2 linked regions of the Homo sapiens genome follow. The protein of the gene in region 2 purifies or fractionates together with the protein of the main gene of each other region. This does not show direct contact. Each region holds a gene or a part of one and is shown on either strand. Other genes may lie near its edges.

The links. The genes of interacting proteins can lie anywhere in the genome.
Region 1: the proteins of RHOH (region 2) and ITGA6 purify together in Homo sapiens (affinity purification with mass spectrometry, with the first as the bait; one large-scale study listed by BioGRID). This does not show direct contact.

The regions. Positions count from the first base shown.
Region 1 is NC_000002.12:172,503,773-172,506,959, reverse strand, and holds the end of ITGA6 (integrin alpha-6 isoform b preproprotein), read right to left. Parts: exon of another isoform or gene 2,870-3,187; coding exon of another isoform or gene 2,708-2,869; 3' UTR 501-2,707; downstream 1-500. UniProt on the Homo sapiens protein: Integrin alpha-6/beta-1 (ITGA6:ITGB1) is a receptor for laminin on platelets. Integrin alpha-6/beta-1 (ITGA6:ITGB1) is present in oocytes and is involved in sperm-egg fusion.
Region 2 is NC_000004.12:40,203,531-40,207,030, reverse strand, and holds part of RHOH (rho-related GTP-binding protein RhoH precursor), read right to left. Parts: intron 1,319-3,500; exon of another isoform or gene 1,199-1,318; intron 1-1,198.

The DNA of each region.
Region 1 (3,187 bases), on a different chromosome or scaffold from region 2:
AGAAGGCCAAGATTTTATGTAATGCCAAGTATAGTGGAGAGCTATTACCTAATATATTAGACAGACATTTATTCAGGCCAGGGCACACTATATTGTCTAGGCATTTTATATATATATATGTGTGTGTGTGTGTGTGTGTGTGTGTGTATATACGTATATATGTATATATATATTTATATATATTTATATATTTATATTTATATATATTTATATATTTATATATTTTATTTTCTTGTATTAGGTTGTGATAATCCAGCTAGAGAAGTTTCATAAAACTCAAATCTAAAATCTTTCTTTTGCTGAAGAAAATATTTTCTGACTAGTTGATTCTGCCACACACGTCACAGCTAGCCTGCTCCCACATCCAAAACATATTCTAAGAAGGAAGCAGCTTAGCTGTCAGAATTTTTTTTAATGCCAGGTTATCATTGCTAAGCAATTCCCTATCCTTACAAGGACAGGCAGTGAAGAGGAGGATTCAGTCCAAAGACAACTCCCAATTTGTAGGTTGTTAAATACCTGTAGGTTTCTTTTAATCATAAAGAAGGAAAATGAAAGACTTGAGGATCACCTACATAGAGCGAAAACAGAAAAAAACCCCGAATCCCATTGCTTTGGCACTAGTATCTTTGGCTGATCTGAGATTACATGAGACACCAAAAATAAAAACACTGAACTTTGGTTTGATGAAATAGATAATTCAGGTTGTCATTTATAATTTTAGAGTTTGCTTCACATATACAATGCTGTGTTACGAAACAATGAACACTTTTATAAAAAATTTATTTCACACTTTTATACAAATATCCACAGGTAATTTCTAATCATGAAATAATTTTACAATGCTAGTTAGTACAAAAATGTATCAAATGCAAACAGACCAGTGACTTGACTTGAGATGACATTTTTAACAACCATAAATCTAAACACCATAACATCTTTGTTTCTTTGTTGAACCACCCTCCCAACACCCTTTTCAGGACATTCATCTTTTTTTTAGTAACACAGGTCTAAAAACACTGTCAAAGTATCAGCTCCTTAGCAATCTAGCAATCTAAACACATTAGGGACACAAGTTCCCCAAGCAAGAAACTGAGACTTTAAACACTGTTATAACCTGTTTTACAGAAATTTTTGTAAACAAAATATATTTTGTGACTAAGAATTCCAAAGTACAACCAAAACAACGTCCTTAGTATCTTAAGGTTTAAGATTTCCGAAAAGAAAAAAGCCCCCCCAAAACAACAGTGGCACTACAAACTGTGTTCTATTCTTTCAAAACACAGACACTGCTTATACTATATCCAAAACAAATTAGCACCTGTTTGCTGTTGCTCCCCATATAACTTAACATTGTGAAGCATGGTAATTAAAAAAAATCAGCTTTCATATCTATTCAGTCTCTGTTGAATGTATAGAGTAATAATTCCACCCCCTGCCATTTTTACAATTAAAACACAATTTAAAGTTCTTGTTAAATTAGCCCCAAAGTAATTTTTGGGAATACAGATAGGGGAGGAAACAAAACAAAAAATAGAACATCGACTCACTGATTAACTGTTTTGGTAGCAGATTCAGTAGTCTTATACTGGATCAGTTTGGATCCACCATAGGCATTCACCATTTCTTTCAAGTCCTGAATATACAGTATTTGCAGCAGTGAGTAAACCGCACTAGAGTTCAGTGAATAAACCCATTTTCTCCAAGAATTCCTGAATGTTACAGTATGAAATCCAGAAACATTATGCAGGCTTCTAAAGTAAAAAATATCCAATGCCTGAAATAAACATCTTTACAGTTATAATTCTATTTCTTAAACCTTTTGGGTTGTGGGGTGGAGGCTGTCATGAAGGAGAGGTTATAGTTTATAGATAAGTTATTAAAACAACTCTCTCTGGTACATTTATAAAGATTTTCTTTTTGCAGTAAATAATTTAGGTCAAAGTGATGACCTCCCATGCTCTAATTCTGATTGATTAAACCAACCTGAAGGGTAAACTGGAGACTCTTTGGCCTGTTAGTCAATAACAAAATGGTTTGTAAAGAAAAGAAAAAATAAATACCATATACAAATAAGTATAACTAGCATTCAAGTCTGTTGCACCTGTGTGTTTTAGTGAAAGGGAGAATGAAACTTGTATGCATTTGACGTGAGCAGGTATTCACACAGCTAGGAAACAGGAAAAGACGGTAGGATGGCAACATCACCTTCTATTGCACATTTAGTTTAAGACAGCACTTTCCGTTGAAACACAACTACCCCAATGGCATAGTCTTGTGATGTGGGACAGCTAACGTGATGGACGTCTGCGCAGCAGGCCCGAGGTTAGGACGGCCACTCTGTTAGTGCAGGTGAGTGTAGGTGCCTCCTCAGCTACACTATCTGGAGGATGTCACCTGAGTGCAACTGGGCAGGCCCTTCCCCAACACATGATGTAAGTCAGCCACGCCAAAAATAAAGGCAACCCAGAAAGTTAAATTACGGCAGTTAAAGAAAAATCCATTCCAACAGTTTTAAATTTGGCTGTGCAAAACAGGAGCCTTAGGCTACGTAACAATATCCACAGTTAAAACTGTAGGTTCGTACTGTGTGTAGTCACTCTGAAATCAGTCCTCAGGGATTGAGCAGGCTTTTAAATCCAAATTGAATTTCTGAGTTGGAAAAAGCAGTTTGGGTACTGTGAAGCTTTTTTTTTTTAGGCCCCCGCTATGAGTAGCTTTCATTTTCGTTCCACTTTGTGATCCACTGTTTTTTTTCAAGGTTATCAATATACTTTTCATCTTTGATCTCTCGCTCTTCTTTCCGGATCCTTACAGCATGGTATCGGGGAACACTGTCATCGTACCTAGAGCGTTTAAAGAATCCACACTAGAGAAGAGGGAAAGAGAAAGAGAAACAAATTAATCTCACAAAGAAGCAAATACACTAAATGGGAATGTCTAAGCTTTCTGTTCAGCTATGTCTACCTCTGGACTAAGGGGAAAAAGACATGGTTTTCTTTTAAGAAAGAACCAAGAGGCTGAAATGAAAGAAGAGCCAGTGGGGATCAACGGAAGAGAACAGCTGTAAAACTGGAAGAAAAGTCCATTTTCATCTTCTCTTTACATTTTATAACAAATGTAGGCTACCTCTTTACTAACAATTTAAGAGTTTATGAAAACAGTGCTTCCATATTTAAAAATAATC
Region 2 (3,500 bases):
TTCACCATCTTGGCCAGGCTGGTCTTGAACTCCTGACCTCGTGATCCGCCCGCTTCAGCCTCCCAAAGTGCTGGGATTACAGGCATGAGCCACCGCGCCCAGCCTGATGGCAATTTTAATACATAAACACTTACAAATAAGATGTATACAAGTATATTTAACCTAAAAGGCATATGACATATTTGCTACAACAAATATCCATTACTATTATATTTTTAAAGTAGAAATTATTATAGATATTTCTCTGATATTGCCGGATATTCTGTGTTTAGGAATATAGTGACAATATTGTTTTGGCACATATAGGAAATTGTGGTATTGTCAATAAGTAAGGGTTTTTCTGGCTTTTCCCCTCCTATTTCCTGTACGTGCCTCCAACCCTCTCTCCTACTTCCTTATCACATGAAGAAGACAGAGAAAGACTACTATTGATATAATTTTCAGCAAGTTACTGCCCAAAGAGTAGAGCTTGAGGAAAATCAGGTTTTATCAAGAAAAAGTATGCCAAAGGGGACTTTTAGGCCCCTTAAAGGTTTTTGTAATTGATTTTACATCATTTAAATTTGACTCTAAATATATTGAGTTTCCTTTTCCTTGTTAGAAGGAATAATTACAGGCATTCTTATGCTTCTCAACCACAGTTGGGATCATTTTCAGCTCAAAACTGGAACAAAGACCAGAAGAATTTTTTGTGGCAACTGAGAAAAAAAAATGCAAGAAAGGGAGAAAAAGGTTCGTAGTAAGGGTTGTATATTTAGAGTCTCTCAAGAAGGTGACAGCTGGACCTGGAGGGAAGACAAATTAAAAGTAGGGGTCCTGCCTGAAAGAAAGGAAAAGAGCCAAGGAAGAGATTTGTGCCAGTCCATTCTCTGCATGGGCAACTAGGTTGCTAGACATAATGACCTGGCAGGGGAAAATAATCTCCAGGAGGTAAGAGGAGTAGAGACTTTGCTACCAGCCTTTGGTGTACATGGAATATTTGTGTTTTGAGGGCTGTGACTGTATGATGCAATATTATTATTAAAATAGATATTGAAACTTACAAGAAATGTAGTCATGGATGTGCAATAATTAAAATGGTTATAGACATGAAGGCACACTGATTACTGGAACATATTTGTTATAGATTTTCCCTTTCTATCTCAAAGACAGATTTCCAATTTTTATGCTATCCCACACCAAGAGAACCTTGACTCACCATGTATTTAGTCAATTTCACATTCTTTTTCTCCGGAGGGATGAAGATGAAGTGCGTTTCTCTTTCTCATCCAGTGTCAATCCACTGTATGACCGTGACATGAGAATGTGGCCTCATCTTACCACTTCCAGTAGGGTTGGCTAATTTAAACAGACGGGTTTGGGGTAAGTCTCCATACCCTGCCTGATACCACAGTCTGGGAGGACAGGAAATGAACAAAGCCCTGAGCTTTCAGCTGAAAACACTCAGTTCCCCAAATTGCAGGTCAGATACCCACTAATGGAAGATGACCAACAGGGCTTCTGTGATCAAAAGGCTACACAGGAAAAGAACTATCTTCAAAGTTATCAAAGCCCAACCAGATGTTCAGCTTCAGATAAGACAACTACATCTTACACCCAGAAGGGAGCACTTTACCCACCGGCTAATGCTAATGCCTTTCACCCTAAAAGCAGCTGGGCTGGGTATCCAGTACGTTGCTTAGGGGCATCAGCTGACCCCACACTACTCACTACACTCTAGAGTTGGCCAGATCAGTGCTTACAACCTGCCTGCATTTCTTTTTCTTGTAAACTGAGTCTCACTTTGTTGCCCAGACTGCAGTGCAGTGACACGATCTTGGCTCACTGAAACCTCTGTCTCCTGGATTCAAGCGATTCTCCTGCCTCAGCCTCCAGAGTAGCTAGGATTACAGGCTCATGTGCCACCACGCCCAGCTAATTTTGTATTTTTAGTAGAGCTGGGGCTTTGCCATGTTGGCCAGGCTGATTTCGAACTCCTGACCTCAGATGATCTGCCTGCCTCGGCCTCCCAAAGTGCTGGGATTACAAGTGTGAGCCACCTCGCCCGGCCCTGCCTGCATTTCTTGTGCCACCCAAGGCATCACGAGCTGATAAGTAAGACATTAAAGTGGCATCTTGAGAGACTGCTTTCCCAAATGGGAACCAACCCTGGCTTCACATGAGAGAATTCAGAACTAAGGATTTAGAGCATTAATCATATGTTATCTGAAGGGAAACAACTCTAGCCCCACATGCTACTCATTTTAAGGATCTGATGCTATAAAACTACACCTGTATCCGCCATCTTACCCTCATTTCAGCCATCAATTGGAGAAGCAGCATTTCTGTCTTTAGGGGCTTAATCTGATGTCAGTAATAACCAGAACTTCCTCTGCAATGCTCCCTCTGCTGAGGGCAGAGCTCCTCACTTGAGGCCTCTAGATCCCTGAGAGTCCATGAATGGGTTTTAGAGGGTCCTTATATCCCCTAGGACTGTGCAGCAAATGTTCATGGCCCTGTGTGAGAAAGTCTTTGGCTCTCATCACATTGTCAAACGAATCTGTGACCAAAACTAGTGATTAGGAAACATTGCTCCAAAGCACAAGCCAATCAGTCCATGAAAAACCCTGTTAGGTGGGGAATAGAATAGTCAGCGCGTGCTTGTAGAAAGAGGTCTGATTTCAGGCGTTAGACCCTTGCACATCCGACAGACCCTGTGACTTGCGCCTCCAATGTGAAGATGGGTTGTTAACTTATCCTTGATTTACCACATCATGTCTCAAGAGATCAGAGGCCCTGACGATGGGGAATGTGATTAAAGTAAAAGAATCATCTCCACTTTAAGAAGAGCACGAGACATTGAAGGCTATTTGAAAGCTATTACAATCACTAAACTTCCAAAGCCAGGTGAAGCAGATAATCTCAGAACAGTGGCTACTGCGATGTCATTCACTTTCATATGTTTATTTTGTGATATAATGTTGTTGTGGCATAAGTCTAATTGTTATTACTATTTTGAGTGCTGAGTTCTGTATATAAAATACTACATTTCATCAAAAAATATACTTTCTTTTCTTCTTTAACATAATGTTATCATACAGTAAGGTCCAGAGTGTTTTCTGTCCGTAGCACTCCCATATTCTACCACGGGTTTAATAACCACCGCTCGATGGCCTGAAATAGAATGTTTATGGGTCCCAGACTCTCCCCATGACCATCTTTCTCTGTGCTCATAGTTCCCCTAGTCACAGCTACTTTTAATTGGTTCAAGTGCTGGACAAAATTGTTTAACTGTGGAAGAGGATTTTGTGCCACAAACTATATTCCTTTAAGGAATATCGTAAGTACAGCTTCCTGGTTTTTGCTGTTTGTTTCTATAACAAATAAATAACTTGTCCCTCTGGGCTTTCTCTGTTTTCATTCCCCTTTTACATTATAAGTCCTTCAATTCTGAGCCTTTAAGTAGCGGCTTCACCTTCAACACACACACACACACTCTCTCTCTCTCACACACACACACA